Regions from separate parts of the Homo sapiens genome. Here region 2 is linked to region 1. Evidence: fine-mapped QTL for protein levels in blood plasma. A gene starts in region 1. The other region holds a variant in brackets. All regions are shown on one strand. Distances are from middle to middle. Region 1 holds the start of COL5A1 (collagen type V alpha 1 chain). Region 2 overlaps LOC100506532 (a long non-coding RNA gene).

The links. A credible set is the group of variants that fine-mapping cannot tell apart. PIP is the posterior inclusion probability: the model's chance that the variant is causal. The UK Biobank Pharma Proteomics Project read protein levels with antibody pairs (Olink). The fine-mapping took linkage between variants from a reference panel, not from the people measured, so its PIPs are less certain.
Region 2: its variant is the best candidate, but not a certain one, in a credible set for the plasma level of the COL5A1 protein (UK Biobank, PIP 0.65).

What each region holds. Positions count from the first base shown.
Region 1 is chr9:134,635,327-134,651,242 of GRCh38, reverse strand. It overlaps COL5A1 (collagen type V alpha 1 chain), which reads right to left and starts at 9,440. Exons shown (of 66, transcript NM_000093.5): 1 at 8,947-9,440. The coding sequence starts at 9,055. It overlaps COL5A1-AS1 (COL5A1 antisense RNA 1), which reads left to right. Exons shown (of 2, transcript NR_138049.1): 2 at 1,659-1,858. LOC124902300 (a long non-coding RNA gene) reads right to left here and starts at 3,189. Exons shown (of 2, transcript XR_007061842.1): 1 at 2,979-3,189; 2 at 1,037-2,852. RefSeq lists enhancers at 1,909-2,408, 3,133-3,932, 5,915-6,499, 7,755-8,461.
Region 2 is chr9:134,543,550-134,559,465 of GRCh38, reverse strand. It overlaps LOC100506532 (a long non-coding RNA gene), which reads right to left. Exons shown (of 3, transcript NR_188441.1): 3 at 14,203-14,546. Among named protein-coding and RNA genes, the nearest start is that of COL5A1, 90 kb to the left of the region's middle. RefSeq lists enhancers at 4,049-4,651, 5,515-6,035, 6,036-6,557, 13,446-14,211. The variant C/T (reference allele first, on the strand shown) is at 7,416.

The DNA.
Region 1 (15,916 bases):
CATTTATTTAAAAAATAAAGAGGCCACCAGATGGTGCCCAGGCTTGATGTGCATTTTTATGCATCTGAAAGGAAGAAGAAGAAACCGAGGCAGAGGCTTCAGGTACGCACTGTTGCCTGGGGCCATGGCTCCCCTTCTGAAGCACTGGGACCCAGCTGCCATGGAGGCTGGCGCCAGCAAACAAACAGGAGGGAGCGGAGCCACGCCGCCCTCACCTGGCCTTGAGAATGGACAGAGGCTGCTTGCGTCCATGCATGTGACTGTACGGACCTGCACCAACATGCAGGCCGTGTGACCACTGGGACGTGGAGGGTGGTTTTCATCCCCTTGTGCCAGCTGGACTCAAGGAGCTAGACTGGCACATCTGCAGAATGGGCCGATCCCACCTGGCACGAAGGGCGGGTTTGAGGATCACAGGTGCTGACGGGAGCACCCTCAGAGCAGGGTCCAGTGTAAATATGAAAATATGAACAAGAGCCAGAGGAAGAACATGCACGGGAACGTGCCCTCTGCATCCACCAATGGGAGCCTGCCTTCAGGCGCATGCATCCCAAAGGGCTGGCCCTGGAGAAGCAGGCTGGTCTCTGACTGGCCACCGCCCCATGGGGCTGGCAGGTGCCTCCCTAGACTGGCCTTGGCCACACCCTACTCCCACTTCTACTGCACCTCACTGGGTAAAACCACCTGTTCAGATGGCTGACTCCCCCGCCGCAGCGGAAGACCCAGTAGGGCACAGACGGCTCGCCTATCGCTCACCTGTGCCCCCCGCACAGGTCCGTCTCATGTTAGGGGTCCATAAATGCTGCCAAGCAAACCTGCTGACACACCCAATGTCTTTGCATATGGACCCCATCTGTTCCCTCTGTACCCACACACGGGAAAGAGTGCTGGTCCCCCAGGCCACCCGCCAGCAGAATGGAAGACGGTCGCTTCCAATGGAAGACGGTTACGATGCTCATGTGTTCTCACTGGGAGATCACTGTTTCCCAATGCAAGGGTCAGAGTTTTTCAACTTAAGTCACTCCTGCTACATACACACATTTAAAAAAATTTTTTTTATTATACTTTAAGTTCTGGGATACATGTACAGAACGCACAGGTTTGTTACACAGGTATACACATGCCATGGTGGTTTGCTGCACCCATTAACCTGTCATCTACATTAGGTATTTCTCCTAATGCTCTCCCTCCCCTAGCCCCCCACCCCCCAACAGGCCCTGGTGCATGATGTTCCCCTCCCTGTGTCCGTGTGTTCTCATTGTTCAACTCCCACTTATGAGTGAGAACATGTGGTGTTTGTGGTTTTCTGTTCTTGTGTTAGTTTGCTGAGAATGATGATTTCCAGCTTCATCCATGTCCCTGCAAAGGACATGAACTATCCTTTTTTTATGGCTGCATAGTATTCCATGATGTATATGTGCCATATTTTCTTTATCCAATCTATCATTGATGGGCATTTGGGTTGGTTGCAAGTCTTTGCTATTGTGAACAGTGCCGCAATAAACATACGTGTGCATTTCTCTTTATAGTAGGATGATTTATAATCCTTTGGGTATATACCCAGTAATGGGATCACCAGGTCAAATGGTATTTCTGGTTCTAGATCCTTGAGGAATCACCACACTGTTTTTATGTCATTTTGTGGCATTTATTTACAGAAAAAAAAGAGGCCACCAGAAACCCTATTGCCGAGGTCCTGGCAAGGAAGAAAAGGACAGAAGAGCTAATTTCCCTACAAGAACACGGGTCTAGGAAACAGAAAATAAAGGAAGCTTCCATTTCATGGGCAGAGACATCTCGGCAAATAGGCTGAGCCCATGTCCCCAGAGCTCTGAGTAATTAAATTTTGAGAAAAGTGGGTCAGGCTGTGGTTCCATTTCTTAGGTCTGAGTCATCAAAGGATGGTGACATTTACTGCTAATATGAGGTTATTACCTAGTTTGAGATTCCTCCAGAAAAACTCCTCTGCTGATAGGAAGCTGAGGGTGTGACGGCTCGGACTATCTGACATGGATAACTCAAAGTGACCCGCACCCCTCCACTGAGCATCCAGCCACCAATTCATTCATTCCACGGTCTTCTCTCCAGTGGCCTGGGGCTGGGCTGGCACAAAAACAACATCTGAGATGGCAAAGCCCCCCCCACACCCCGCCCGCACCAACTTCACCCACCCCTGCCTGGAACACCTCCTTTCAGTGATCAGCCACCACTCACCGCCATCACATCACAGAGACAGAACAGAGGCCTGCAGCTGGGAGGTGCACAGGTCCATCCACCTCCTGGACCTCCGTTCCTTGTAAAGAGCAAGTGGCCAGAGGAGGCAGGGGAGGGCCACTCTGCGGGCTGAACTTGGCCTGGCCCGCGACTGCCCAAGGATGCACCTTCCTGGCTCAGGCTCAGAGCCTCAGAGGCAGCGAGCAGCGAGCGATCCGCTGAACTGACCACTGGTGCTTACTGCCTTACCTTTTCTCCTGCGTACCCAGTGAGGGAAGCAGCAGTGTGACACCACACAGGATGGCAAGGGAGCACGCACAGGCCAGCGAGTAGAGGGCCCCAAACCACCTCACAGCCTCCTGCTGCACTGGGGCCCCTGGTGGCAAGGGCAGTAATGGGGTCTTACTCTGTGCTTTATATGAGTAATACATTAGACATCACTAAAACCCTACTGTAGTTACAGTCACCACCCCCTTCTTACAGATGGGGAAAGTGAGGCACAGGGTGGGAAAATGCACTGCTGGTAGACACTGGAGCCAGGATAGGAATCCAGGAGTCTTGCCGGCTGCCTGTCCTTTGCCAGCAGGCCACCCTGGTCCCTATGCCATGTCCTGGTGGCTGCAGTCCTGCAGTCCTGCCTATGAGCAGAGCTGTATTAGTCAGGGTTCCCTTAGAGGGACAGAACTAATAGGAATAGAAATAATAGAAATATATATATATATATTATATATATATATATAGGAGTTTATTAAGTACTGACTTACACAATCACAAGGTCCCACCACAATAGGCTGTCTGCAAGCTGAGCAGCAAGGAGAGCAAGTCCGAGTCCCAAACCTGAAGAACTTGGAGTCCGATGTTCGAGGGCAGGAAGCGTCCAGCACAGGAGAAAGATGTAGGCTGGGAGGCTGGGCCAGTCTCGTCTCTTCATGTTTTTCTGCCTGCTCTACACCTGCTAGCGGCTGATTAGATTGTGCCCTCCCGATTAACGGTGGGTCTGCCTTCCCCAGCCCACTGATTCAAATGTTAATCTCCTTTGGCAACACTCTCATAGACACACGCAGGATTAATACTTGTATCCTTCAATCCAATCAAATTGACACTCAGTAGTAACCACCACAAGGGCCGCTGTGGGCTCCGCCTGCAGGATCGAGGCACATCCACCAGCCAGGCCAGAAACTTTAAAACCGACACTTGGCAAAGCACTGAGAGAGAGCAGACGAGTCAATTATATGGGAGAATGTAAATAGAGGAGAAGCGGGAGCCATAATGTAACATCGCCCTCCCGGGAGTTTAAAAAGACATGAAATTGTCGGATCCAGCTGGACCCGGCTTGCCCTGCGGCAGAACCCACAGCCTCACGCTCAACCGGCAGGTTCCACGTGCCATCTCCTCCTCTCCCGTCCAGCTGGGGCCGGGTCACGGTAAGGAGAGAAACGTCGCCCTGCCACGAGCTCCTCAAACACACCAGGCCCTGCACGTGGAGTCAGCCAGGGACACCCATGTGAACGCAGGTACATGTGCAAGGATGCGCATGCGTGCACACTCAAACACACATGTATACCCACAAACACATGTGTGCAGGCAGATCGCGGGGAGATATACACATTGTCCACACGTGCACACGGCCTGACACACACACACACACACGCACACATGACACACATACACACAAACGCACACATGAGTGCAAACCCTGGAATTGGCTTCTAAAGCTTTTCACATGCATCACACCCCACGGCCTGGACAATGACCCCATGAGGTTCCGTGGGAAAGCAAAGAACCGAGGCCAAGGAAGGCAAAGGGGCAGCAGAGACCGGCTAAGCGGGCAACAGCAGAGCCCCAGGGGTCTCAGCAGGGCCAGGCCCCACACAGGCACACCTCCCTCGCCTGTGCTTCTGGGAGCTAAAGAGGGCTGTGGGAACACTGCTCTTTCCTCCTGCAAAACCACCACTGAAGATGGGGGCGATGGTAACGTCCCCACACAGCCAGTGCCGAGTACAGGTCAGGCAGCCTGCAAAGCTTCTCACAGGTGTGGCCTCAATCGATCTTCACAACCATGCCTCAAAGCAAGAAATGTGGTTCTCCCCATGTTCACGAGGGGAAGCTGAGGTGCAGTGACTTGTCCTCGCCCAGCCCATCCGACAGCCCCTCAGAGGCAGGGAAACTCAGCTCCAGCCTCACACCGACCTTGCTGGCCTGGAGTTCAGTAATCTGATTGCCAAGGAATGTCCCCTCCCACATCCGACCACCTGTCACCCAGCACAGGTACCCAAAATCACCCCCAGAGGCCCCCACATCCTAATCCACAGCTGTGGAGCTGTCTGCAGAGCTGTGCAGACTGGGCTCACTGTGCCAGGCCAGCAGGGCTCGTCAAAGGGAAACAGGAGGAACGGGGGCAGAGAAAGGGTTAAGGAAGCTGCCAGGATCTGCCACTTCCCTTAGGGGCACTTGTATTCTCCTGGCAAACAGATACTGGGAGCACCTGCCAAGCCCGTGAATGAGGGGCTTTCCAGCCAAGGGAGCCGCCCAGGAGAGCTCTGGGACACGGTGTGGAATGTCCTGTCAGAAGGAGGGAAGAGAGCAAGATTAAAGCCAGAGGTGGAGGAGGACCCCACGAAGGAGGGTCATTTCTGCAATAAAAGGAAGGAGAAGAGAAGGAGGGAAGGCCAGTTTCACATCACCTCCTCCAGGAAGCTCCCCAGCTCTCCCCAGTGCAATTAACCCTCCCAGACTGTCGGATGCAAGACCCAGCACATCCCATGGAGGGCCCTGAGTAAAATTCACAATGGTCTGCCTGTCAGACTGTGAGCTCCTGGAAGGAAACGAGGGGTCCCATCCCATTTGCCTCGGTCTCCCCAAGATAGGCCCGACCCAGGTGAAAAGGCAAAAGCCTTCAGGGTCCAGGCAGGTTATGCTGATGTGCAGAGAGGCCTGGGAAGTGGTGGAGACTGTGGCTGCTGCATCCCTCTTGAAGGCACTGGAGTAAAAAGAGAAGGGATGGAGGGACAAAGGGAAGGAAGGAAGGGGATGGGAGAGAGGGAGGGAGGAAGAGAGGGAGGAAAGAAGGAAGGAGGGAAGGATGGAGGGGGAAGGAGAAAGAAAGGAACTTAAAAGCTGTGTTGGCCAAATGGAATGGCTCTGCTCCCAGGACCCTGTTTGGACTGGGCCCCCAGGCCAGGACTATAGCTCAGGGCCCTGGCCTTCTCCCCGGGGAGAGCTGATAAACCGATGGGAAGTGAGAAGAGGGAACTGTGACAAGTCAAAGAGTGACCATGCCAGGCGAAGGGCCGTTGCTGGCTTAGGGCCCCACAGCAGGAATGGAAGACATCTGCCTGGCATCCCTGCCCCCTGACTCCTAGGCTCTGTCCCTTCTCAGGCCCGGGTGAGGGTGCAGTGAGATGGTGCAGCTGATGCTCACCACAGGCCAGGCAAGTGCCAGCCCCTCCATTCCCATGTGTGATTGTCTCCCAAGGCCATTCCCAGAGCCACGTCACGTGACCGAGCAGGGACAGGTCCTGCACTGTTCCAGATGCAGCTTGGCTCAGGCTCCTATGTGGGTGCCCTCGGGAAGTGTTGGGGACTCATCCTCGCCCTCCAGCGGGGCAGCTCACTGCTCTGCACAGCCCCTACTCCACCTATCAAGGTCTATCTCCCAGGAGGTGGGATGGGGCGGTCCAGGGAGGAGGCAGGGCAGGCAGACAGGCCAGGCAGCGAGAAGGCAGGGCGGGACGGGCAGCACCAGCTGTGTTCGGCTGAGGCGTGGCGGTGGGGAGTCCAGAAATATCTGCAGGGCGGGGTGAAGAGCAGGCTCTGGCCAGCCCCGCAGGAGCAGCCCAGGAGTAACATCACTGGAGAAACCACTGTGAGCCTGGCACTGGGAGCACGCCCCTGCCTGGGGCTGCCGCACTGCTGGGTGGGCACAGCCCTGGGTAGCAACCAAAACTCCAACCCCTCCGGCAAATCTGGACCACAGCAGGGAGAGGGCTTGGGGAATTCTTGGGGCTTCTGAGCTCCTCCCACTCACTGCTCTTTTATGGGGAGAGGGAGGGAGGGGGCAGAGGATGGAAAAGGATGTCTTTCCAGCCAACTTGATTGAGTCAGAGGAAATTTAACCATTTGATACCTGTCAAGTCTCACAAAACTTGGCCGACTCTCCCCACAAATTATTGCAAAAAGCAATCACGTGACTGGAGTCAACCAATGGCGTGTAGAGGAGATGACCTCAATTTCCAAATATTGGGGTCATGTTTCATTTCCCATACTCTCCTTCCCCGTTACACTGTTCAGCAGCCCCAAATGCAATCTTACTTTTCATTCCTTCACACACTTGGCCAAAAGAAAGCAGGCAAAAGAACTGTGTTCAGAAAACCCTCAGAAAACATCTGGCAGATCCGAAGATGGAGAAGACAGCAGGCACTTGCTGGTGGCTCCCCCCCGCGCCTGCCTCTCCAGTGGACAGCCGCCCCCTCCCCGCCACGCCTGCATTTCCAGTGGACAGCCGCCCCCTCCCCCCAGCGCCTGCATCTCCAGTGGACAGCCGCCCCCTCCCCGCCACGCCTGCATCTCCAGTGGACAGCCGCCCCCTCCCCCCAGCGCCTGCATCTCCAGTGGACAGCCGCCCCCTCCCCCCAGCGCCTGCATCTCCAGTGGACAGCCGCCCCCTCCCCCCAGCGCCTGCATCTCCAGTGGACAGCCGCCCCCTTCCCCCAGTGCCTGCATCTCCAGTGGACAGCCGCCCCCTCCCCCCAGCGCCTGCATCTCCAGTGGACAGCCGCCCCCTCCCCGCCACGCCTGCATCTCCAGTGGACAGCCGCCCCCTCCCCCCAGCGCCTGCATCTCCAGTGGACAGCCGCCCCCTCTGGCCATGCTCGAAGGATGACTTCCAAATAGGTCCCACCCTGGGAGGTGGAGAGACGTTGGCAAAACTCACTAAGAAAAGTGGTCTCTCCACATGCTTCTAAAAGTCTGTTCTGACAAAAGCAAAATGTCCAACTCCATAGCCTGCTGCTCTGGGCCATCCTCACTCCCACTTCCAACGAGCCGCACTTCGATTAGCGAGGGCAACCAGAGAGGGAAAAAGACAGTGTGGAGGTGGGGAGATGGGCAGGGAGGGAAATGGAACCCCAAGCCCAGTCCGGTGCATGGTCCCCAGGCAGTGCCCTGCCCCAGCTGTCTAGGGTGACGATTCCCCTGAAGGACTCCCTCCTGAGTTTCTGGGGAAAAGTCCCCAGAGGCGCTGAGACAGGGCCTAGTCCCCCGGCAATGGCACAGTCCCTGACCACACCTTCCTTCTCCTCTCCACTTTTCTGGGGACCTCTGTTGTCCCCCACCTTCAGCTAACCCCTGGAGAAACACAAGCCCAGTTAGCCCAGGGTCAGGAGAGAGTTGGTGGCGGCCCAGGGATGAGATCCCAGGTCCTGGGAGCCAGGCCAGGCTCCTGGCTCCTCCCCCAGAGCCCCAGGGCAGCCCCCACACCCAGACTCCAGCTCATCCAGTTAGCCCAACAAGCACTGATCGTGCCAGGGAAAAAGGAAAAGAGTGTTTTAATTGACAAGCGGAACACGGACAATGATTCTTCCCACTTGTCTTCCAATCGTGAAGCAGAGAGAAGCATTCTTGCTGGCAGGCGGCGGGCTGGTCCAGACGTTCGCTGAGCCCACCGTCCCATCGCTCTGCCCGCCACTTCTCCTGACCTGGCAGCACACAGCTCTGAGCCTCCATCTCCCCGCCTGTCAATAAGGATTCGGGGGACCTTCCAGGGCTGGGGGCTCTGATGTTCGAGAGTCTGTGAAAACCCACCCCGCCACTAACTACCAAGAGCGATGCCTAGAAAAACTCCCCCGTCAGGAAGCTGCGCCAGGGAGAGTTGAACCCTCGAGAACCCAGGCAGGGACGCAGACAGTCCCCGCCTTGAAGCGCCCTCCCCGGGAAGCAAGCCTCCTTCTAAGGGCTGACCCTTGGCAGAAGGAATCCCACATCTGCATATCATCCCAACCACTCACAGCCCCGCCTGCAAGCCCATCTCTGGCTTTGCTCCACGCATCCCATCTCTCAGCAGCGAATCCAGGAAAAGCTGCCTTCCAGGGATCAAGAAGTTTGGGGGTGGGATTAGGAGCAGGGCTGTCTACCACCCTGCAGGGGTCCCCAGTGCCCCCGAACACTTAGGTGACCAAGGCTGCAGGAAACGCTGTCCCTGGGGAAAGCAGGGCGCCAGCTCAGCCTAGAGTGACAGTGCCTGGGGGAAGTTCAGTGCTGGGGGCCCAGGCTTCTGGGATTCCCCCCATCCCCAGGAGTCCCGGGATTTGAAGGGCTGTAACTCTAGGGGGCGGCCCTGCCCGGTTTGGAGCAGAGGAAGTTCTGCTGTAGGGCTGTGAGGGCCCAAGCTGGGCGCCTGTGATGTGGGACAGAGAAGGAAGGTTTTTGGGACAAAAGTTTGCCCGCCTCGTGGACAACCCCTCCTGCTGATCCAGCCCTCGGTCCTTCCTCGGCTCGCGCGACAGCCCCACCCGACCCGCCCGTCTGGGGAGGGGGCGGCGGCGCGCCCGCGGGCATTGTGTCTGCGTGTCGTCATCTCGGGGGGGCCCCCAGCAAATGGCATTCGTGGTCTTGGCCCGTGCATTCCACAGGCCAAGGAAGAAAAGTTCTGCGGGCGAAGGCGCCCGGGGATGACAGCGGCGCCCGGGCTGCGCGCGCCCCATCCCGCAGCCCCGCGCCCCGGGGCGCCCTTACCTGCGCGGCTCGGAGGCGGCGCCCACAGCAGCAGCAGCAGCAGCGGGGGCAGCAGCGGGGCGCCCGGGCGGAGCGCGCTGCGCGCTTTCCAGCGGGTATGGACGTCCATGCCGGCGGGGCGCGGGCCGGGGCGCACAGGGGCGCTCGGAGGCGCGCGGGGACGCACAGGGGCGCGGGTCACGGCCCGGGCAGCGCACTCAGCAGGGACCGCACCACTTTAGGAGGTCATGGGGACCTCGGCACCCCCCGTTCTTCTTTGTGGCGGCGGCTGTTCTGGAAGGGGCGGCTGGCGCGCTCGCCCACGGGCGGGAGGGCTCGACTTTGGCCCGCGGGGCGGCCGGGACCCCGCTGGGCTAGCTCGCCCTCGCCTCCTCCTCCTCCTCCTCCAACTCCTTCTCGCCTCCTCCTCGCCGCCGCCGCCCCGCGACCCGCTCCCCGTGGGCGCTCCGCTCGAGTGAGGTCCTGCGCCAGCCGCGGGGACGGAGAGTGCGGACCTCGCCTTCGGCGCGGAGCACTTTTTTCCCCCTTTTCCTCCCTCCCTCTCTCCTGGAAGGCAGCCGCGGAGGCTGTCGATCCCCAACGCCCGCAGCAAATCAGAGCCCGGCGCTGGGCTCGGCGAGGCCAGCCCCCGCCTCCCACTGGGCGCCGCGGGCGAGGGGGTGGGGACAGCGGGCGAGTCGCAGCGAGGAAGGGGCTGGCCCGGGGCGGAGCGGACGTGGGGCGGGCGCGGCCCCCTGTTCTTTCTCTGAGAGCCGGTAGGCGGGCGGGCCTGGGGCGGCCTCGGAGCCCAGGGGCCCACCCTGGTCCCCCCACTGTTCCCACCCCAGGTGCCCGCACCTGGCCATGCTCCAAGAACCAGTGCAGAGGGGCCCCGAGGTTTGATCACTTCGGGTTAAAAAGAAAGTTGCAGTTTACCCCGCCTAACTTTTTCTTTAACGTGGAGGAGTTCAGAGCTCCTCTTCTGGGTGGAGACTAAACTTCCCATCCAGCCAGATCAGGGCGCCCAAGACTGTGGCCTACGTGTCAACCCGGACCGAGGACCTGCCTCCTAACTGCAGATTGGCACGGGACCGAGCTGGGGTCTGACTTCCCAAGAGCTCCCGGGACCTCCATGTGCTTGGACGGGAACATCTGGGTTATTAATCAGGCGAAGTTTGGCTCTGCGGCCCCCAGGCTCTCACCCCTCACTCCTGCCCACTCCCTGGTGGCCCCTCTGCAATAAAAAGGAAACCAAAGAAGGCATCCCCTTGGGAGTGACAGCTGGCGCAGGGAGAAGGCATTCCTGATCGGCTGCTCTCGGAGAAGAGCTGGGGCCCTGATTCTCCTGCCTGGCTTCTTTAAGCCCCTCGGGGTCTCCTCCAGCAGGAGGCCCGCCAGTCTCTGGGTGGTAGGTGGGCGTCTCTCCCTCCAGCTTCCCCAGGCCTGGCCTCCCTGCACAGCCTCCTGAAGCCTGACCCACACCCCTTCCCCAAGGGCTGCAGGGCTAGTTTTTTAAAAGGAGGGAATCAGAATGAATTAAGAACGATTTGCAAACCCTGGGCCATCCCCATTCCCTTTGAACAAACAATTTAGCCAGAGATGCCAGACAGGGCTGGGACTCCCCTCTCCAGTTACATCTCCAGACTGGGCGTGAAATTCCCCAAATGCTCTTTAATTCTCACCATTCTGGAAACAGGAGGTGAGAGAGGCGTCCGAGGTTAGGTTTGCCAGGATAGCCATGGCAGGCTCCGGAGCTGGGTGATAGGTCGCTGTTGCTAACTTGGTGATGAGGCTTTTAGTCTCCATATCTGCCACATGCGCTTGCATAGATATCAAATATTTCGCAGGAAAAGAATGAGAAGCTCTTCACACACAGACGTGGGGAGGTGCTTGAGATACATTCAGTAAAGCAAATGTTAGTTCTGACCTGTTTCCTTGTTGATTTTATTTTGTTTTACAACTTGTATAAGGCATATGTGATCAGGCAAAAATGTGTGTGAGTTGTGTGCATGTGTGTGTTTGTGTGTGTGCCTGTGTGCGTGTCTGTGCGTTGGTTAACCTGCAGCCACTGGCCCTTTACTTTCCCTGTGGACTTCAATGAGTGAGAAATTCCATCAAACCCCAGACTCCGCGCCAGCCCCAGCTGTGCTTGGTCCTTGGAGTGCCCCCGCCCCTACCAGCAAGGCCAGCTTCACCCCTGAAGACTAGGGGTGCTGACACAGGCCATGGCCTGGTTATCAGAAGAGAGTGGAGGCTTTCTGGTTCCAGCTTCTTTTTCCCCAAGCACAAGTGGAGTTCCTTTCTGACAGTCCCATGTGCACATCCGTGCCAGTCAGCAAGCCCTCCTGTAACTCACAGCCAGCATCTAAACTTTGCCCTGAATTAACACAACTGGCGCCTTAAGAGCTGACACTCAAGTGACCACCCCAAGGTCCCCCAAAAGTTGACTTCTCAGCAATGGTAAGATGGCTCAGTCTTGCAGCTCAAGCAGCCATGACAGATGCACTTTATCCTCTCTTGGAGAGCAAGTGGTGCGGTGGCTTGGAAAGCTGTCAAATGTGAGTTTCCACCCTCATCTGAGCCTTGAGTTGGGTGGAGAGATGAGTTTCTATCCCACCAGGAAACTCAGAGAGAAGTCCCCAAACTTGGCGGCCTGATGTGTCAGCCAGGGACTATGGCAGAATGGCCCGGCAGTACCAATCAGGATTCGAACTGTGTTGCCAAGCTAAGAATATCAGCCACATCTTAAGGCTTTTGCCTCACACTCTTCACCCACACGTGCATCAGTTCTCATGCACCGGTAGGGAATACTGGCATCTCTCCCATCCACAGATGAGGAAATCAGGGGCCACAGAGGGTAGGGGACTTACCCAGTTCATCCGTGACAGGGTCCGGATTTGGACCCAGGTCTCCATGCTTGGAGCCCAGTGTGCACTGCCTGCCTCCCCATGGCATCCGGACCACACGCCTGCCGCCAGGACCACCCTGCCCAGATTCAGACAACAGCAACTGGTGCAGATTGTCCCAAACTCACCATGTTCCATGCCCTCCCACAACTGAGCAAAACCAGAGTCCTTGGAAAACTGCTTATTGCGCGCATACTCCTTGCCAACACCGCTCTAGGCTTTAGGGAGTATGTGGTGAGCAAGGTGCCTGGGTCCCTTCCACATTGACCTGCAATGCAGCAGTGACTCCCACGCCCATGCAGAGGTGGCCCCTTTTTTGCATGTGTGTCTTCCTTGTCTTCTGCTATCCATCGTTTCCCATCTAGCCCTCCCCGGCTGCCTGCTCCTGTTCATGGCACTCACCGCAGAAGGCTAACCAGGTCCTGTACCCTGTGTACTCCTGGGCCACCGGGAGCGCCACCACCCATCACTGCGTGTTTCCCACAGTGCCTAGCAGAGAGTGGAGCAGGCCAGGTGCCCTGCACCTTACACGTGGAGTCCGATGGCCCAACTTCTCCTTCCAAGGCTGTGTTTCCTCTCATTTATTTTTCGAGCGGCAGAGCTGTGGTCCGGACAGAGCGGCCATGGCAACCATCAGGTGTTGCTCTCATGTGGACCTGATGGTTCACCACCAGTCCTGAGGGGTCACACCAGCCTCCCAGAGTCACGTCTGGCTGGAAAATGGCCAGCTGCTTCCCAAGACAAAGGCCTTGAGGGGCAGCCAGATTGTCCCTTCTTCTTCTCCTAGACCCATGGAGGAGGTGGAGGAACAAGGTCTTCTTGGAGTGCCTGGAGGCAGATATCTGCTTGCCCTCTAAGCATTTATGGTCCAGAGACTGCTGAAGTGGGCCCAGGAGGGCCTGGGTGAGCCACGGCCTGGCAGAGGGGCTGGAAGCTGCCCCACTCTGTCCCATGCAGGGGAGGAGTTCCCTCTAGCTGCGCAAGGAGAATGCTCTGAACCTGCATCCGGCACCTGGGGCTGCAGCTGTGTCCTTCAGCTGATGTCCTGGGACCAGGCCAACTCCAGAGTCACACAGACTTCCGTTAGAATCCCAGCAGCACCAGCCACTAGCCACATGACCTTGGGCAAGAGGATTCTGTCTCTGAGCCTCAGTTTGTTATCTGTGAATGGGCGGTGAAGAAACTGACCGCTGGGGGGTCCCTGTGAAGCTCAGATGAGAAGGTAGGTGAGGGAGGCCTGGCCACAGTCCCCTCCCTCCCTGCTCCCTGCCGCTGGGCACTCATCCTCTTCTGCCTCCTCCAAGCCCCCTGCCGCCTTCCAGGGCTTCACCTGCTTACCTGCATCATCTCATTCAATGGAGCAACAACCCTTTGAGGCAGGAGGAAGCTGAGGCTCGGAGAGGTGAAACTATTTGCTGGAGGCTGAACAGCAAGGGTGTGGCTAAACCCAGTAGCCCGGAACGCAGCCCTTAACCACCGTGCAGCCTGCACACCAGCAGCAGAGCAAACCAAGGAGGCGCCGGGTCCGAGGGCCGGCCCGCGGCTGACCGCATGTCCTGCCGGTTCCAGGGGCCCAGACCCCCACTGGCCCTAGTTTACCTTCTGACCCATTGGCCTTGACCACTGCTCCATGTGAGCTGTGGCTTCTCAGCAGACCAGAGGCCACCGCTGTGCCCACAGAGCCAGCAGGACTCTCCCTACGTACTGGAGCGGGGCAGATGGGAGGGAGCCCCTTTCAAGCCAGCACTCTCTTTGAAAAATTACTTGGGGAAGGCCGCCACTTTAAAGCCCTTGGACAAAGCATGTCCTTCATTGCCTTGTTTTTGCAGCCTTCTTCAGCCTGTGTCTGCCAAGTGGAGAGTAGAGGAGAGGGTGAGAGAGGGGCCGGGGCCATGCCCCAGGTCACCAGGCTTCCCGGGTGTGTGAGTCAGCTCGGCGGCCACAGCAGAGTGCCACAGATGGGGCAGCTTAGACAGCAGGGATTTATTCCCTCACAGTCCTGGATGCTGGAAGTCCGAGGTTGAGGTGACGGCAGCACTGGTTTCAGCCAAGGCCTCCCTCCTCGGCCTGCAGTCGGCACCATCCCCCCATGCCCTCACACGGTCATTTCTCTGTGTGTGTCTGCGTCCTCATCTCCTCTTCTTTCGGGAACCCCAGTCAGTTGGATGAGAGCCCACCCTAATGATCCCACTTAAACTTAATTATCTTGTTAAAAGCCCCATCTCCAATCACAGCCACATTCTGAGAGGCAAAGCTTCAATGTACGAATTTTAGGGGGACACAATTCATCCCCCTAAAACTGGATTCCTGCAAAACAGTCCCAGTCCGTGGGCCTTTAGCAGAAATCTGAGGATTGAGGGGCTCTGTTTTCTGGCACAGTAGAGACTTTTACCCACCTAGGTGCTCTCTTATTGTGGATTCTCACACCCCAAGGCGGGGGCAGGGGTGAGGGGTGCAGACTCTGGCCAGTGGCAGGGGACCCTGGCCAGTGGGAGGGGACTCTGGCCAGTGAGAGGGGACCCTGGCCAGTGAGAGGGGACTCTGGCCAGTGGGAGGGAATTCTGGCCAGTGGGAGGGGACTCTGGCCAGTGAGAGGGGACCCTGGCCAGTGGGAGGGGACTCTGGCCAGTGAGAGGGGACCCTGGCCAGTGAGAGGGGACCCTGGCTTCTGATGAATGTGTACCACCCTGTCTCCTTGTCCCTCTAGCACATAGGCTGAACCTCTCCTCGGTGGCACTGTCCACCATGGGTGTGAGAGTGGGGCCAGCTGGAGGGCCCAGAACACCAGTGCAGATGCAGCATCTCCTCCAAAAGGCTCCAAGCCCACTCCAGAGTCTCCTCTCTTTGCTTCCCTCCCCACAGCAAATTGCCCTCCCCTTTCTGTGAGTGAGGTGCCCCTGCCCATGCTGCCTGTTAGGAGCACATTCTGTTCTGGATATGAAGGTGTGCATGTGAATAAGTCAGTCTTTGGGACAGATGTGTCTGGGAGCAGGTGTGCATGGGAGCAGTGGTGCACAGGGGCAGGTGTGTATTGGAGCAGGTGTGCATGGGGCAGGTGTGCACTGGAGCAGGTGGGCACAGAAGCAGGTGTGGCTTGGGGCACACAGTCAAGCATGGTAGGTGGGGGCACAGGCCTTGGGACACTGTGTAGTCACATCTGTGTATACCTCTGCTTCCGGAGAAGCAGCCGTGGGTCTGACCCCAGTCTCCCCAGTCCAAGCCTGCAGCCTGTGCTCCATCTAGATGTGGGTGAGAGGGGGTGGGAGGGGGTGAGAGAGGGTGAGAGGGGGTAGGAGTGGGTGGGAGGGGGTGAGAGGGGGTGAGAGGAGTGAGCTGGGAAGAACCCAGGCAGGCTGTGGTCCAGTGAACTCCAGGCCCCATGATTCCATTGAAAATGCAATCCGCTGACTCAGTGGTTTACTTGAAGCCCTTCCCCCGCACCTGAACTTCTACCACTTTGTGAAGCTGAAGCCTCTTCCTCTTCCCCAACCCTCAGCCTTCCCCAACCCAGAGTCCAGCAGAGGAGCTGTTCTCCTCCCAGAGCTCCCATCCCGGGACACCACGGTGCCAGGACCCCCAGCCCAATTTATCAAGCCACACAAGCAGGACCAGACACAGCTGGCCCTGGCATCTGATCAAACATATACACGCAGCTGGAGGTTGGAGGCGCTTTTCATCATGGCGGCTTCTCAAGCATGGCGGCTCATGCTCTTTATCATGGTCTGATGGAGGGCCAGGAAGCAGGGCTCTCAGCAGCTGAGGGGCTGCCCCTCCTTCAAGCCCAGGGACAGAGCAGCATAAATCACCAAGGGATGGAGCCGTGACATCGATGGCTGAAACAGCCTGGCTGTCCCTTGGCTGCGCCTGGCCCTCCCATCTCACTGGCCCTCCCATCTCACTGGCCCCGCTCCGCTGTGCGGCACAGCTCTGTTTCCATGTCATGTCCACGAAGGCCTGGTTTTACTGGACCTGGATATCCCATCAGGTGCCAAGTAAACCCTGCAAAATAATGGAATTTCCAGGCGAGAGAGCCCATGACGAACACCAAACAGACTTTAGATATATAGAGTGAGTTCGCAATTAAT
Region 2 (15,916 bases), 92 kb after region 1:
GAGTTTATTTAACCCTTACACACACTTCAAGGTACAGCAGTTTTCCCATTTGACAGCCAAACCATCAAGGCACAGAAAAGTTAAGAAAATTAGCCAAGATCACACAGCTAGCAGACGGTGGAGGTGAAGCTGTGTTTGGGGCATTCTGTGAAGGTGGTGTGTTTGGGGCATTCTGTGAAGGTGTGTTTGGGGCATTCTGGCCCCAGAGCCTGCACACAGAAGTCCCGTGCTGTGCCTCTCCATGCACCACGTGCTCAGGGCACCCAGAAACAGCTCCAACCTCCCCAGACCCAGGAGGACTCCTGCTGCCCAATTGCAAGACACTATAAAGCCACAGACCACATGATGGCGAAACGATACCCACAGATCAGTGAAACAGGAGGAAACCCAGAAATCAAGCCACACAAATACACCTGACTACTTAAAAAAAATGCATTGAAAAATTTAAAATGGGCTTCAATTTACGGAAAAATTGCAGACAGTACGGAGAGTGCCAGTGGACTCTGCGCTGTTTTCCTCATTTTTAACATCTTACTTTCCGATGGTGTGTTTGTTACAGCTGAGAGACCAACAATGGGATGTTATTAACTGAACCGGCCTTGGTGCTATTCACTTCAAGCTTTATTCTGAGCTCGCCAGTTTTCCGCAATGTCCTTTTCTGTCCCCAGAGAGCCTCCAGGACACCATGTCACCTTCGGTCACCATGTCTCCTTAGCTTCCTCTGAGCTGCAGCAGCGTCTCAGACTTTCCTTCTTTTTGATGAACTTGGCAGTTTGAAGGTGTTTCAGTCAAGTCTGTTGTGGAGTGTCTCCTAGCTGAGATGTGTCTGGTGTCTCTCTCTGGATTACACCGGGGCTACGGGTGTTGGGGAGCAAGACCGTGGAACGGAAGCGCCACTGCAGTCCCATCGTCTCAACATCACTTATCACCACGGAGTTGACCTTGATCACCTGGCAGGGACAGCACATGCCAGCTTCTCCACCACTGAGTTCTTTCCTTTTCCTTTCCATTCTGTCCTCTCCAGAAAGGAGTCACGAAGTGCAGCCCACACTCCAGGCTGGGTGGGGCAGGAGGCTTAACTACGTAAAGCAGAGCTCTTCTGTGCGGGGGGCCTGTCTCTCCTCCCCATTCGCTGACTGACTGAATAATTTATTACGTCACTGTGGAGTCACGGGTGTTTATTTTATAATAATTTGGGTTCTACCCCAATACCTCATTATCCATATCTTGCTCAAATTGTTCCAGCTTTGGCCACTGGGAGCTCCTTCAGGTTGGCCCTGTGACGTGCCCCATCCTTTTGCTTTGAGTTTGTTTGAGTTTATTTATTTACTTATTTTTGGTGGGGGGCAGTTTGGGTTTTTTTGACAGAATCTCACTCTGTCATCCAAGCTGGAGTGCAGTGGCACGATCTCAGCTCACTGCAACCTCCACTTCCTGGGTTCAAGTGATTCTCAAGCCTCAGTCTCCCGAGTAGCTGGGATTACAGGCACGTGCCACCACATCTGGCTAATTTTTGTATTTTTAGTAGAGATGGGGTTTTGCCATGTTGGCCAGGCTGGTCTCGAACTCCTGACCTCAAGAGATCTGCCCGCCTCCTCCTCCCAAAGTGCTGGGATTACAGGCATGAGCCACCATGCCCGGCCTTGAGCCCGTCTTTACTTTCTGGCACTACACAGTGCTCCCATCTCGTGTGTCTACTCCCTCCCCAAGGAGCTCTGTTCCCTTTGATTGGAGGATAGAGTCAGAACCCGAGATCTGGGCTCTGGAGTGTTTGCCGCGGAGGCACCCTTGCTTCAGTCTCGCTCAGCAGATGGGGTTAGGAAGTTTGTGTACAGCCCACGTATCCATGCAGAGCTAGATCTCTTTCCATACCCGCCCACCTCTAGCTACAGGACGCTGATGGGTGTTCACAGTGACGTCCCCAGTGCCTGTGGTTGATTCCAGCCTCGCATCCTTGCTCATTCAAAACCTCCCTCGCCAAGAACGAGGAGCCCAGCTGCCGTTTCATCCCTGTACACACGCACGGCAGCTTCAGGATCGGTAACCTGCCCTCCCGTGAGCAATATCTGCGCTGAGTGCAGTGTTGAAGCACGGTTGCCTTTTCCTGTAGTCATACAGATTCTCATCAGAATTGTGTTTCCCAAAGTTGCTTAGGTGAGTGCATCTGCCATGCTTACTGGGCCAGAGGAGTCACACCCCGGGGACCATGCAAAGCAGCTTTCACCTTCCCTGCATGCTCTTGCAATTCCCACAGAGGATTCGTCAACCATCACCCTCACCCCACAAAGCAGCAACCTGTTCCCAGGAAGAAATGAACACAGGAAAGACAGAAAACATGCCAGGGACCTGATTGCATATGGCGGCTGAGCACTCCCAGTGTGACGGCCTAGAAGCAACCTGGCTATGGGATGAGAAAAGGAGGAAGCGTCCACCCTCTGACACACCTACTGTTTCCACACCGAGGCCCCTGCTGTCTCCAGCGCACATCTGCGAGCCAGTGTCTATCCCACAAAGCCAGCTGCCAGGGTCCCGGCCTCTTCATCATGGTGCGTGCGGCCACGGCCCAGCCTGCTCGCTTCCTGCTGCATTAGAACATCTCCTCACTGGGGATTCCAGGGCCCTGAGCATTCTTGAGCAAATCTGTTTCCTTGCAGAGCGCATATCTCAGGCAGACACAGAATGTATAGAAAGAGCCAGGCCATCTGGGCTGCAGTCCACAGGCACAGGGCTGATGTTGCAGTGTTGGACACGCTGTTGACTCCACACCCAGCTGAGCTGGAAGGCTTTCCCTTGCATCTCCCAGCCACCGCTGACGAGAGGTCCCTGACGAGAGGTCCCTGCCCAAGTCCAGCCCAAGGCACCCCTGAGGGTTTGGCAGGAGTGGGGCACAGAGCCCACTGGTAGGGAGAAGCGGCTGTGGGCTCAGGCAGCCCTGGCTTTGAATCTGCGGTGCCCCTCACTCGCCATGGAAACTGGAGAGGTGGAAGCTGCCCCTGTGGGTCTCCATCTGCTCATCTGGGAGAAGCAGCCATAAAAGCTACCTGATTTGGTGTTTTCAGGGGTTGTTTGTTTGAGATGGAGTCTTGCTCTGTCACCCAGGCTGGAGTGCAGTGGTGCGATCTCCACGTACAGCAACCTTCGCCTCCCAGGTTCAAGCGATTCTCCTGTGGCAGCCTCCTGAGTAACTGGGATTATAGGCGCCCACCACCACACCCAGCTGATTTTTATATTTTTAGTAGAGGTGGGGTTTCACCATGTTGGCCAGGGCGGTCTCGAAATCCTGACCTCAGGTGAGCTGCCCGCCTCGACCTCCCAAAGTGCTGGGATTACAGGCGTGAGCCACCATGCCCTGCCGTGCCTGATCTATTGAATGGACTCAGAGAGGCAGTGAGAGGTGAGAGCTCAGTAGACAGTGCCTGCAGCAAGGCGGTTCTGTGGGTCCCCGAGACATGCTGAAGCCTCCACCCCAGGCCCTGTACCAGGTACCTGACAGGATGAGGTCACCTACCATTTCCGATGGGTGGGCAGGGCCCCCATAGAGCTCAGACACTGCTGGGCTTGCTCCTGGGCTCCCCCCCGCCCCCGACACAGGGCTGGCATGCAGTGGGTGCTCCAGGAAGCCCCCAATCAGCCACAGTCCAATGACCAACTCCTGACCTTTCCCTGTGAGCCCAGACTCCTTTCAGGGAGGAGCATGTCCCAGAGACAGTCCTGCAGGTGGCAGGCGGGTTCGGAGAGAACCCTGCCCTTTACTTTTTGGAATTAGGGCCTCCCAATCGGAGCCAACATCCTGGGACCCTCGACAAGTCCCTACCCTCCTGTGGGTCTCCCATTCCCATGGGGAAACACATGGGTCAGCTTTCCCCTGCAGCCCCAGCTGGCTCTAAGAGCCTTCCTTCCAGAACATGGTAAGTAATTTATCAAAGGTTCTCAAAATGCCCTGCCCCCTCTGCCCAGCTCTGTGGCTCAGAGAAAATTCCTGTGCTCTTTCCATGACTTCCTGCAATGCCTTCCCACATGTTTCCATATCACTGGGTCCTGTTCCCTCAGCCGTCCCTGCAGCTGTGCGGTTTTAACAACTGCTGGCCTAGAAGGCAGCATCCACTGAGACAGTGACCACTGAGGAACACGATAGACTCAGAAATGGGGAAACAGCCGCCCAGAGACGGCAAGCGAGCTGCCCAAGGTCACACAGCGTAGGATGGGTGCTGGGATGCTATGATGCCCTCCACCCACCTCGCTATCCTCAGGGGCCTCCCTGAGATCTCCCAGGCTTCCTGTGCCCAGAGTATCCACGAACCCAGGACCTGGCACAGCCACCAGCCACTCTGCATGGCTGGACCCATCATCTGTGGACCACTGAGCCTTTGGGCTTATCTGGATGATTCTAGCCCCACCCTGGCTGGGCTCAGACTGTCTCCAGGGCCTTGGGGAGAGCGGCTGGCCCAGCATGTGGATGAGCTCAGCCTCCCGCGTCTGGTCCCCAGATGCCCCAGTGAGACCTCCTCTGCCTTCTCAGGCGATCTTCCTCTGATCCCCACCCAGCACGCTTGTCCTCAGGAGACAGAGGTCAGCTCGTGCTTGGCCCGCAGAGCCCAGGCCATGGAGGGCCCAGCCAGGACAGCCAGCGGAGGTTGCCTTGCAAGCCTGGGGGTGGAGCCTCCATGGCTGGCTGCAGAGCCGAGCAGGGAGGAGGCCAATGCTGTGAGTGCAGGGAGGGGCTGGTGATGCCTGCCATGGCATAGATGGGGGCAAGGCTCACTGTGTGGACCACGATGGAGGTGCCCTTGAGTCGCTGTGGCACTTGTCCACCTTAGGGCTTGTTTGCTGGTCTGGATGGGTAGGAGAGCAAGGGGGGCCCTGTCAGTCCAGGGCTCCGCCTGGGCAGCGCTCTACACAGACAGTGCCCAAGGCAGGTGCGGCGTCCACAACAGCGGCGCTTCCTCAGTCCTGCAGAACTGGACACCTCAGCACCCGAGCTGCTGTCACCCAAACCGTCTCACCTGAGCCTCCCAGCAGGTGACGAGCGCAGAGCAGGGGGAGTCAGTCCATCTCTCGGATGAGGCACTGACCCCCAGGGCAAGGTCACAGTCAAGGCAGTCTGGAACCCAAATCTCTCTCAAGCCCAAGTGACAGGCCCCTGCGGAGCCACCTCCCACCAACCCCAGCGGGCTGTGCCGCTCATAGCTCCTCTACGTCCTGGCAGCCTAGAGATCCTGACACCCTAGACGCCCGCCTCCCAGCATTGTCCATCTCTGGCTTTCTGTTTGCTGGGCCTCCGGAGTGCCCTCCATCCACAGGGCATCGGCCCACCTGGGTCCCCTGAAGTGCCTTCCTGTCTCCCCACCTTCCCAGCCCCCACACCCCCCTGCTCACTCCGCCAGGCCTGCAGGACTCCCAGGCTCTGTGTCTCCCTCAGACCCACCCAGGCCCCCCGAGGGCTGACAGCCCCCATCCCCTGCTGGGAAATGAATTCCCCCTCCCCAGCCTTCCTCTTCCTCCCCTTCTCTTTGCCCGGAAAGGCATTCGGCAAGAAAGTGAAAGGAGAGGCTTTCTCTTCTTATTAACCTGGAGTTGTGTTGCGGGCGGCGCCAGAAACTGCAAAACCATCGCTGTCCTCACATGTTTCTCTGGAGACCGAGGGAACCAGAGCCCTCCAGAGCCGCACAGGAAACCCCATTGGGGATTGGACGGCACCCCTGATGAGCTGCTATTCCCCAGGGAGCACTGAGGGGCTGGAGAACCTGGGGAGGCAGGAAGAAGATCACTCTGACTTTGCTGGGAGTGGCGTCTTCACCGTCACAGCCTGGCATCAAGGGGAGCACTTGTCAAAAGTCTGAGAGCATGGGGGTGGGCTCTGCCCGGCTTCCTGCCCGGACCTCCCAGGAAGCGGGGAGCCCAGGAGGAGGGGATGGAAAGTGCAGAATGCCGGCCTCGGGCCCCTGCTCTCCTCTCCCCAGCCTGCCTGTCCCAACAAGGAGGGCTGGTCCACACTCGCACTGGGCCAGCCGGGCCGCGCCAGGCCTGGCACATGCTGGGCACTCAAGAAGTGCCTGCTGCATGAAGGTTGGGTGAGCGCCATCTCCGAGCAATGCTGTGCCTACAGGCCACTCAGGGTGACTCTCTGGACACAGCCCACCCTGACTTCTGCCCCAAATCAAACTGCAGCTGCTGGTACTGCCGACAGCAGGGAAGCCCCTTGGGACCCAGGAGGAGGCCTGGTGGGGATCTGACGCGGCTGAGGCCCAGGCTGAGCTGGAGCCCCGGGTCAGCCCCAGGCACTGCATCACGGGCCACAGCTGGTTGGGGCTCTTCTCTCCACTACCCTGACCCAGCCTCTGGCCCGCCCCTTCCACTGCCCAAAAGGGAAAAGCCACAGTCTGGCTCTGCAGAGGGGAAAGTGCACTTGGTCAGGAGTGTCAGCAAAACCAAAGTCTAAAATGCTGAGCCCCCTGAGCTCAGAACTTAGTGTTCAAAGGCTCACCAAGTCCTGAGGTGTGGCCAGCAGTACGGAGCCAGCTGCAGGGACCCCACCCGAGGCAAAGGCCCAGCCCTGTCCTGGGGAGCTACAAGCCAGGGCAAGCATGGCTGAGGGACATGGGCACAGGTGGTCCCAATTCTCACCTTAGCAGGTGCTGGCCCTGGGGCACCAAAGGACTTCTGGGGGAGATGGTGCCCAGGGTGTGGCTGGCGGTTGATCTGGGGTTACTGGTCCTGTTTTCAGGTCACTGTAGTGGGGTTACATGGAAGCCCCCGGTCACACTCACCTAGAACCCCCATTCTGTTCCTGGGGGACCTGCACATCTGCAGAGGGCTTTCCATGCCTGCCCCACCCAGCTGGCACCCAGGGAGGTGGAAGAAGACAAGGCAGCCTCCCTCCAGTCCCTCAGACTCCGCCGGACCCCAGTGTCAGCAGAGCTGGTCACTGAGTAGTAGTAGTACTAGTACTACATGGGTACAAGGGAGACCCAAAGCCAGGACAGGGACCCCAGGCCACCCCCGACCCCACATCCGCTTGTTCAGCTGGACTGGCCAGGTTCTCCCTTCTCCTTGCCATTTCAATCATCTCAGGGCAATTTCCTTTCTCGTCTGAACTCTGATTCCTCCCCAGATGGCTTCCTCCCTCGTTCCCCCTCTAGCGGGTCTGGGCCAAGCCCCGTGGCTAAGGAACATCACAGGCCGTCGCTAGGAAGGGCACCGCGGCGGGTCGGCCGGAAGGCTCTGGCGGCAGCGCGCGTGCTTGGAAAGGGAAGTCCTCCTGCAGAAAGGCGCGGGCTGGGGCTTGGGGCCTGTCCCACCGAACCAGGCTCAGTGGCCACAACTATGCCATGAGCACATTTTTAGACTGTGAGTCAACTGCTAATAGAGTGATTTTTATAATCACCCCAGAAGGAAGGCTGATTTATAGCTCTTCT[C/T]GATGGAGCAGAGTCAGCAGGAGGTGGGTCTGAAATAGACTTGGGGTGGGGGGTGGGGGAAGGATCCCTCCTAGACCAGCCACTGGCCGGCGTGAAACAAGGCAGAGAAGGCTGCACAAACCTCTCGGCCCCTTGTCCACGGGGAGTCTGGGCTCCCTGAGATGAAGAGCAAGACCAAGTTTGCTGTCCTATCAATCAGGACACTGAATTAGATCCCCTAGGGCTGGCTTATATTACTGTCACTTCAGCATTTAGTTACAAGGGAAAATAAATCAATCGCAGAAATCATTGTCTGTGCTTCTATCCTATGCCAAGCCGTATGGATTTTGGGAGATGAAGAAGACCAACCTTTTGTGCAGGAAGGGGGCCACATGCAGGAAAAAGAAAGTTCCAGATGTAAACACATAATGGTCTGTGGGTCTCATCTGAGCCTGTTGAGCTTGAACTCAGTGGAGAGTTGTCCCGTCAGACCAGCCTGTTTGTGTGTCGACGGCTGCGAGGGATGCGCGCACGCCTGGACCGTTCAACCAGCGGCTGACGCGGCGGAGGCTCTGCAGCCTTTGCCCTCTGCCCCCTCCAGGTGGAAGGCCGGCTCCCTCACCTGCGGAGGATGCCAGGTCATGGCAGGGCTTCTGCAGGGCGGCTCCCAGGACCACTGGGGTCTCTACTTGGGAAAAGGGGCCATGGGCAGGGAGCCAAGACCCGAAAACTCAGCGACTCAGCCTTTTGCTTCTCCAGGACGGGGTCCTCCAGCACAGAGGACCCCTTCGATTCCACCCTCACACGCAGTTGACAACCAGCTCTGCCCCGCAGCTGCGGCCCTGGGGAACAGAGCGGCCCCAGCTCTAAACTGAAGGTGGGTGTGACGTCTCCCACACGGAGGATGTAAAGCGGGACAGGTGTGAAGAGGCGGAGAGATGCAGGTGCTGAAGCACCATCCAGTCCAAGGACAGCAAAGAGCCAGTGTCCACCTGGCCCCCTTCCCTCCTGTTCTCACAACACACGTTGCTGGTCAGCCCTCCCTCCTGTCAATTTTGGGCTGCTCCTCAGAGTCCTTCTCAACACAGCCCTCTGGGCCACCACGTGGAATTGGTGAGGATCATTTATGAAACAAGTTCTCCGTTTCTCTACATTATAAATAAAACTGAAACTCAGAGGGGCAAGGACCTGCCTGAGACCACTCAGAGTTGGAGCAAAGCAGACACGTGGCCGCAGTTGTCCAGAACACCCAGGAGAGGGGGCCGAAGGAGGTGTCCGGGGAGGCGGGAACACCTGAATGACACAGTGCCAGATGGGACAGGGGCTGCAGGGGCATCACTAAGGACACATGTGCTTGTTGAGTGAGTGAAGGATAAACATGAAGTCAACAAGACGTGGGGTGGGAGGTGGCACAGGAGCTGAGAAGGTGGAGTGGAAAAACAAACAGAGATGACAATCGACGGCCTGCAATGAAGGTTATTGTCATTAGGAAGCAAGTCTTTTATGATGGTGGGAAAAGAATATGCATTGGCTCGGCACTTGAAATGAATATTCCCATTTTATAACCAGCAAGACCCAAAGAAAGGGGATTGGTCGGAAACACCATAGAGCTGTTCCTCCGGGAGGCCCCCAGGGAAAGCAAGAGGGTCCCAGGCACAGCCACCACTGCCAGGGATGACCTTCAGAGAGAGGCCTCAGCCGCCACCACCCAGCCTCCACCACCCAGCCTTCTCCACCCAGCCTTCTCCACCCAGCCTCCACCACCCAGCCTCCACCACCCAGCCTCCACCACCCAGCCTTCTCCACCCAGCCTCCACCACCCAGCCTTCTCCACCCAGCCTCCACCACCCAGCCTCCACCACCCAGCCGCCACCACCCAGCCGCCACCACCCAGCCGCCACCACCCACCACCCAGCCTCCACCACCCAGCCGCCACCACCCAGCCTCCACCACCCAGCCTTCTCCACCCAGCCTTCTCCACCCAGCCTCCACCACCCAGCCTCCACCACCCAGCCTCCTCCACCCAGCCTCCACCACCCAGCCTTCTCCACCCAGCCTCCACCACCCAGCCTTCGCCACCCAGCCTCCACCACCCAGCCTTCTCCACCCAGCCTCCACCACCCAGCCTTCTCCACCCAGCATCCACCACCCAGCCTCCACCACCCAGCCTTCTCCACCCAGCCTCCACCACCCAGCCTGCAGCTGAAAACAAAACAGGTTGTGCCCTTCAGCAAGGGTGAGAGAGCCCAGTGAAAATGTCACTTTCCCTCAGATGGCTGCCTCGGTGGCTCTGTCTTACTGACTGTGTGTGCCGCATGTTTCTTTTATTTCAGCTGATGTGGGGTAACGGGGCCCTGCCTTCTCCCACAAACCCCCTGCCAGGACTCTGGAGGCAAACTGTCCCCAAAAGAAATGGTATGAGGCACCCTCAGCTCCTCCAGTGACCCATGGCCTGCTCCCTCCACAACATCCCCACCCCCAGCCTCAGGCTGGCACAGAGGGACAACCACGGCTGCGTAGACTCCCAGACGGATGCTCACGATGTTAGGGGCGGCCTGGCCCTGTGCCCACCTGAGGGTTCCCGGAATTCCAGCTGCCTGAGAAAGTCGGTGAGAGCCCAAGAAGGTGTTCTGGCACCCTGGATCTCCCGGATCTCCCGCTTCCCGAGGGGCCCGGAGAGAACAGACTTATGGAAGCATGGATTCTACGGATAGCCAGAGTCAGAGATGGTCTGGGTGCCAGCCACAGAAGGTACTGAAGCCAGAAGGGAAACACAACTGTCCACATACGGTAGTCAGTGCGGTTAAGAAGGAGGATTCCTGAGTCGGACATACCTGGGCTCAAACGGCTCTGCCACATCCTAAGTGCGTGGCCTTGGGGAGGGGCCTAACCTGACTCACCTGAGCCTCCTCATCGGTGGAGATGACACCTATGAGACGGGATAGCAGTGAGGTTGAAACACAGTAACACACGTGTTTAATCACACACATGCATATACACACACGCAGGCACACACACAAGCATGCGCACACTGCTTGGCACAGAAAGTGAGATATACTCAGTGCTGGGCTAGTACATGTTTAACAATCTTAGCTCTCTGGGGTAAACAAAATCCTAGAAAACAGACCCACTTTGTAGCACGCGCCGAGTCGACTTCCCCGGGGCAGATACTCCAAACCCTGGCTCTGCGCGCGATGTCCCTGAGCGGGCCTGGGAGGAGGTGAGAGTTACCCGCACGCCACCGGCTGCGCTGGTCCCAGCACAGGGCTGCTCCACCCAGAAGCTGCTGGCCTGACGGGTGACAGAGGGGCCTTTTGACCAGGCTGCAAGACTCTGACTTGGAGACAGGCCGCTGGAGGGTGAGTGCTATGGTTTGAACGTGTGCGTCCCCCCAGCATTTACATGTTGGAGCCTAAGGCCCAATGTGATAGTATTAAAGGGTGGGGCCCTTCAGAGGCGATTGAGTTATAAGGGCTGCAGCCCCATGAATGGGATCAGTGTCCTTATAAAAGGGCTCAAGGGACCTAGCTAGACCCCTTTTTGCCTTCCTGCCTTCCACCATGTGAGGACATAGTACGTGTCCCCTCCGGAGGATGCAGCATTCAAGGCACTGTCTTGGAGTGAGAGACCAGGCCCTCCCCAGACACCGAACCTTCCTTCGCCTCCTTGATCTTGAACTTCCCAGCCTCCAGTACTGTCAGCAATAATGTCTGCTGCCCCCAGATGACCCAGCCTGAGACGTTTTGTTGCAGTAGCAGACATAGACTGCCAGCGAGGATGGGGCCCCTCTCCAGAACGGCAGACACCCGTCCCTGACCATCTAATGGCCTTGTGCACCCAGAGGGTAGAATACACCAGTCTAAGAGCCAAGGGAAGGGAGAGGGGAGGTCCCACTCACCACACCCCTGTGATTGGGTGAGGGAGCTCATCTTCCTGTCTTCATAACGTCGGGCCCAGTGAGCCCAGGAGTCCAGTTTCTCCTAAGGCATTGCTGTCCCCAGAGACACAGGAAGAGTCCCCTCCAGTTTCCCTTGACTGCCTCTTGCTCACTGTGGGCTCCTCACGCCAACAGACCAGCAGCGTAAGAAGGAGATGGTCACTGAAGCGGGAAATTGGCCTCTTAGCCGGAGTCACTGGGCCTGCTCCTCGTGGGGGGGTGGGGTGCTGCTGCCACACAACAGGGGAGGGAAGAACACAGTTTCAACTCTGCGCACACCCCTAAGCATGTGTGAGGGTGACAGGACAGATGCAAGAGCTGGTTGGAGAAGGGCCTGGTGACCGGGGCACTGACCTGAGGGGCAAGGGTGGGGGTCACCCAGCTTAAGGCCAGACCAGCAGAGGCAACAGGCGGGGGTGAAGGGAATTGAGAATGGGTGGCTGAGGGGAGAAATGACGAGGCTGGCTGCAACCGGGCGAGGGTGGAGGGTGCCGTGGTTTATCCCATAACCCTTCTGTTACCTTTCCCCAGAAAAACAGATCAGCCGAAGCTCTCGCAGAGTAACTGAGTGTTCGAGGAAGTGAGGAGGCTGCAGCAAATGTTCTCGTGTGCCCAAGATGCCACCCTCAAGACCAAGGCTGTCACTCCAGGCGGGCCTGGAGCTGCCGGCGGATCACAGCAGAGTCTCTGCCAGCTGCCCTGCACCCAAGGGAGCTGCACTGTGTGAGGTCACGCCCGCTCCCAGGCCCAGCCACATCTCAGGACAAACCGCATGGGAGTCGGTCCGGAGGCTCAGCCCGCTTACCTCAACGCAGGACAACTCCAAAGGGAATCCCAGCTCCAGAGCCGTCCACAGGACGGGCTGACGCCCGAGTTCACGACCGCGTCACCACTCAACTCCTCCCTCCGCCCTGTGCTGCACCCCTCACGCCCTTTTAGGTGTTGGTCCCAAAAGCGTTTCCCCAAAACCACCCATACATAATTCTCTATTTCCAAGGACTCCAGAGAGCCCGTCTTAAGACACTTTGGTTGCAAGACCCCAAACCAACATGAATGGTGCCCCTAGCCAGGTGTAATGGGAGAGAAGGCCCGTGGTGGAGGCCTCGGCTCTGTCTGTCATAACTGGAAGAAGAGGGTGGTGGCTGCCAGGTGCTTTGCCAGGTCCCGCTTACCACCCTGGGGCATTGGAGGAGTCACCCGTTGCTGCCCATCTCAGCAGACAGGGGCAGGTGTCCCCGGAGCATCGCCCCTCAGGGCAGGGCTGTGAGTTTTCACTCCACGGAGGCTCAGGCCATTCCCAGCAAGAGGAGGCCATGTCCGCGTGGCACATTCTAACATATGGTGAGTGTGATTGTAATCAGTTGTCCAAAACCCATGGGGATTGACTGTTCATCGACTCCCTTTCAGGGGCTGTTGGAAGAATTAACTGCACGTCAACTAGCCGCGGAAAAAGGCTGAACTGCTTCTCAGCATGTGTGTGGAATTCTTGACTGGGATTTTCAATATGGTTCAGAGCCAAACTTTTCTTTCTTTCGGAAAACATCTGAGAGTCTGCTGAAAGCCAGTGAGAAAGTAATCCCATGTACACATTCTCGGCAAGCCTCAGGCTGAAACGGCTCTCACATGTGGACTCGAGCCTGCCTGGATACAGACGGGTTGGAGACGGATCTGCTCAAAGGCGGCTCAGCAGGAGTGAGAAACCAGTCCTTCCTGAGCTTTCTGCAGCCCCCCGGGAGCCCACTGAGGAGGCTCAGAGGCTGCTCTGGGACAGGGAGCAGCCAAGGTGGGACGCAGGGCAGTGGGCAGGCTTCCCCGGGCAGCAACGCCAGCACCCCTGCTTCCAGCATCCCCATCTCAGTCCCCTTCACATGCAGGACTTCCCCCAAGTGATTAATGTGACAAAGGGGCCCTGTGGCTAAGGAAACACCAAGGCACAGGACGGTCACGTAAACGACAGCCACGCTTCGGCAAGGTCCCCACTGGAAATACGGAAGCGAGACAGCGCGTCTGCAGCCACGTGTCCGTCGGGTACCGAGCCACCCAGTTCCATGCTGGGACCACATGGATGGGGAGGGGACACCGTGGCCACCCCCTAGGCATTGCTCAGTCATTCTTGTACAGCGTACAATCGCCCGTTTATAGGAAGAATGCTGACCATATATTCTGGTTTTCCATGCGCAATACTTCACTAGGAAAGAATGCAGAACTCACCAGAAGGAGCACACGCTGCAGTTTTCCCCATCAACCAAACCTCTTCCCAGGGATTGGGAAATAGGATGGCGGGGCTCTCCTGCCCTTCCGGCGCCTGGAGAAGGCACAGGTGGCCCCAGCAGGGTCCTAGACAGACAAGGGTCCCAGAGATCAAACCATAGGGTCTTCCTGCCTGAGACAGGGACATTTGACAAGGCAGCTGTGAGTTTGGAACCTGTAACCAGGGCACGGCGCCTCGGCACTCCACTCACCCTGCAGAATGAAATCTCAACCCAGGATGGACGGTGGAGGGAGTGCTGCCTCTCACCGGCGAGGGCACAGCCTCACCCAGCCACAGGGCTCCCTGTGTGACACAGGCTGAGCTCTGGGTCTCGGGAGAAGGCACACACACGCTTGCAACGTGAGGTTTCCTTGCAACACAAAGTTCAGATTTAGGAGGGGAAAGATGAGTTTCAGATGCTAAAACTAGTCTTTGGGGACTTTTCAAGGATAAGAGATGGCCTGCTTCTGGGCCGGCCTTTGGGAAAGGTTTTCATTCTCAATTTCCACCCTGACCGATGCTGCGTCGTGTTGTTGATATGTGAAACGTGGTCTGTGATGTCCTGAGGCCTGGAAATCCAGATGTTCCCCAGTTCAGACTTCACAACTCAGGAAAGTGAATCTTAGTGAAATACACATTGGAGCTTTTAAGAACTGTTTTTAAGGAGACATGTAAGAAAACGTGACTCAGTGAATGATCACAAAGTTTGCATGCAGGTGACAGACACCCAGGAGAAGAGGCACAATAGGACCGTCTCCCTGGAGGCCCTCTGTGCCCCTCTCACCCTCATTCCTTCTCCCTTCCCCAGAGTGGCCGCCGCCTGCCTGCTCACACTGCCTCCGTCACCGGGATCGCGCCGTGGGTGAATCTGGTGTCCGGCTCCTTTTGCTCCATGTGGGCAGGCTCCCCTCTGTTGCTGGGCCTGGCTCTTCATTCACTCCCATTGCTTATGAGCACATGGATGCTTTTTAAAAGGAGAAAAGAAAATTAGCCTGTTGTTGTTTGAAGGCAACAATCCTGCCCTGTCCAGCTGAGAACATCTGCTAGGAGAGCTTGGGCTGTGCCGTGCGGGGAACCGTGGGAAGCAGGGTAGGTGGGTGTCTGTCAGGGGAGGGGAACCAGGGATTAGGTCAGACAAGAGGCGGAACAGGGAGACAGGCAGGACCAACACCATCTCGGGGGCTTGGCCAGACCGGCCACTCATCTCTGCCAAGTCAGATGCCTCCAAGGAGCCGAACCCTAGAGAAAGCTGCAGGGCCGGGAGCCTCTGGGACGGGAGGACCCCACCTCCAGGGCAGCCCACTCTGGGGTGGGACAATGGCCTCCTTTGCTGCCCCATGGACGATGAATGGCACCCATGTATGACTCATGCCGCTGGTATTTTCTGGCTGATTCCAGTGAGCCGAAGGAAGGAACCTTAGTTACTAAAGGCTGCTCTCACTGCAAGCCAGCGGCTCCCTGCAGCTGGTGAAAGTGGGCGCCGCAGGATAGCGCAGCCCTACCCCTTGCACTTCTCCGGATTTTACTTTTCTTTTAATACTATGAGGATGAAAGGACGAAAGCTAGTCTAGGATTGAAAACATCGGCCAGGCACGGTGGCTCACGCCTGTAATCCCAGCTCTTTAGGAGGCCAAGGTGGGCAGATCACCTGAGGTCAGGAGTTTGAAACCAGCCTGGCCAATATGGTGAGACCCCTGTCTCTACTAAAAATACAAAAATTAGCCAGGCACAGTGGCACACGCCTGTAATCCCAGATACTTGGGAGGCCGAGGCAGGAGAATTGCTTGAACCCAGGAGGTGGAGGTTGCAGTGAGCCGAGATCACACCATTGCACTCCAGCGTGGGTGACAAAGGGAGACCCTATCTCAAAAAACAAACAAACAAACAAAAAACAAAACAAAAAAATGAACAGAAAACATGACACCCCCTCCTGGCACTTCAAACACCCCTACGACATCTGTGTCCCCTGCCCAAGTCCTGTCCTGCACAGAGAGGGTGGAGAATCCACATGTGAGGCATGAAGAAGCCACACAGGCTTAGCGAGGAGGGGCAGCCATGCCCGACCCACAGAGGCTATTGGCTCAAAATCCTTCCACGATAATCAGCTGCTTTCCCACCAAGAAACAAAAGCCTGGAGCACGTGCAAAGGAAGAAGAGAGCTCAGCTGTAAAATGCCAAGACGTTCAAAATAACTACGGATGTTTAACAAGAAATGCACAGGCCTACGTGAAGAAATGTTAGAAACTCTATTAAGTAACCTAAGACAAAAATGGAAAAAAGAGGAAATTCCTGGTGCATAGGAGACTCATTAAAGGTAAAACTGGGCCAGGCACA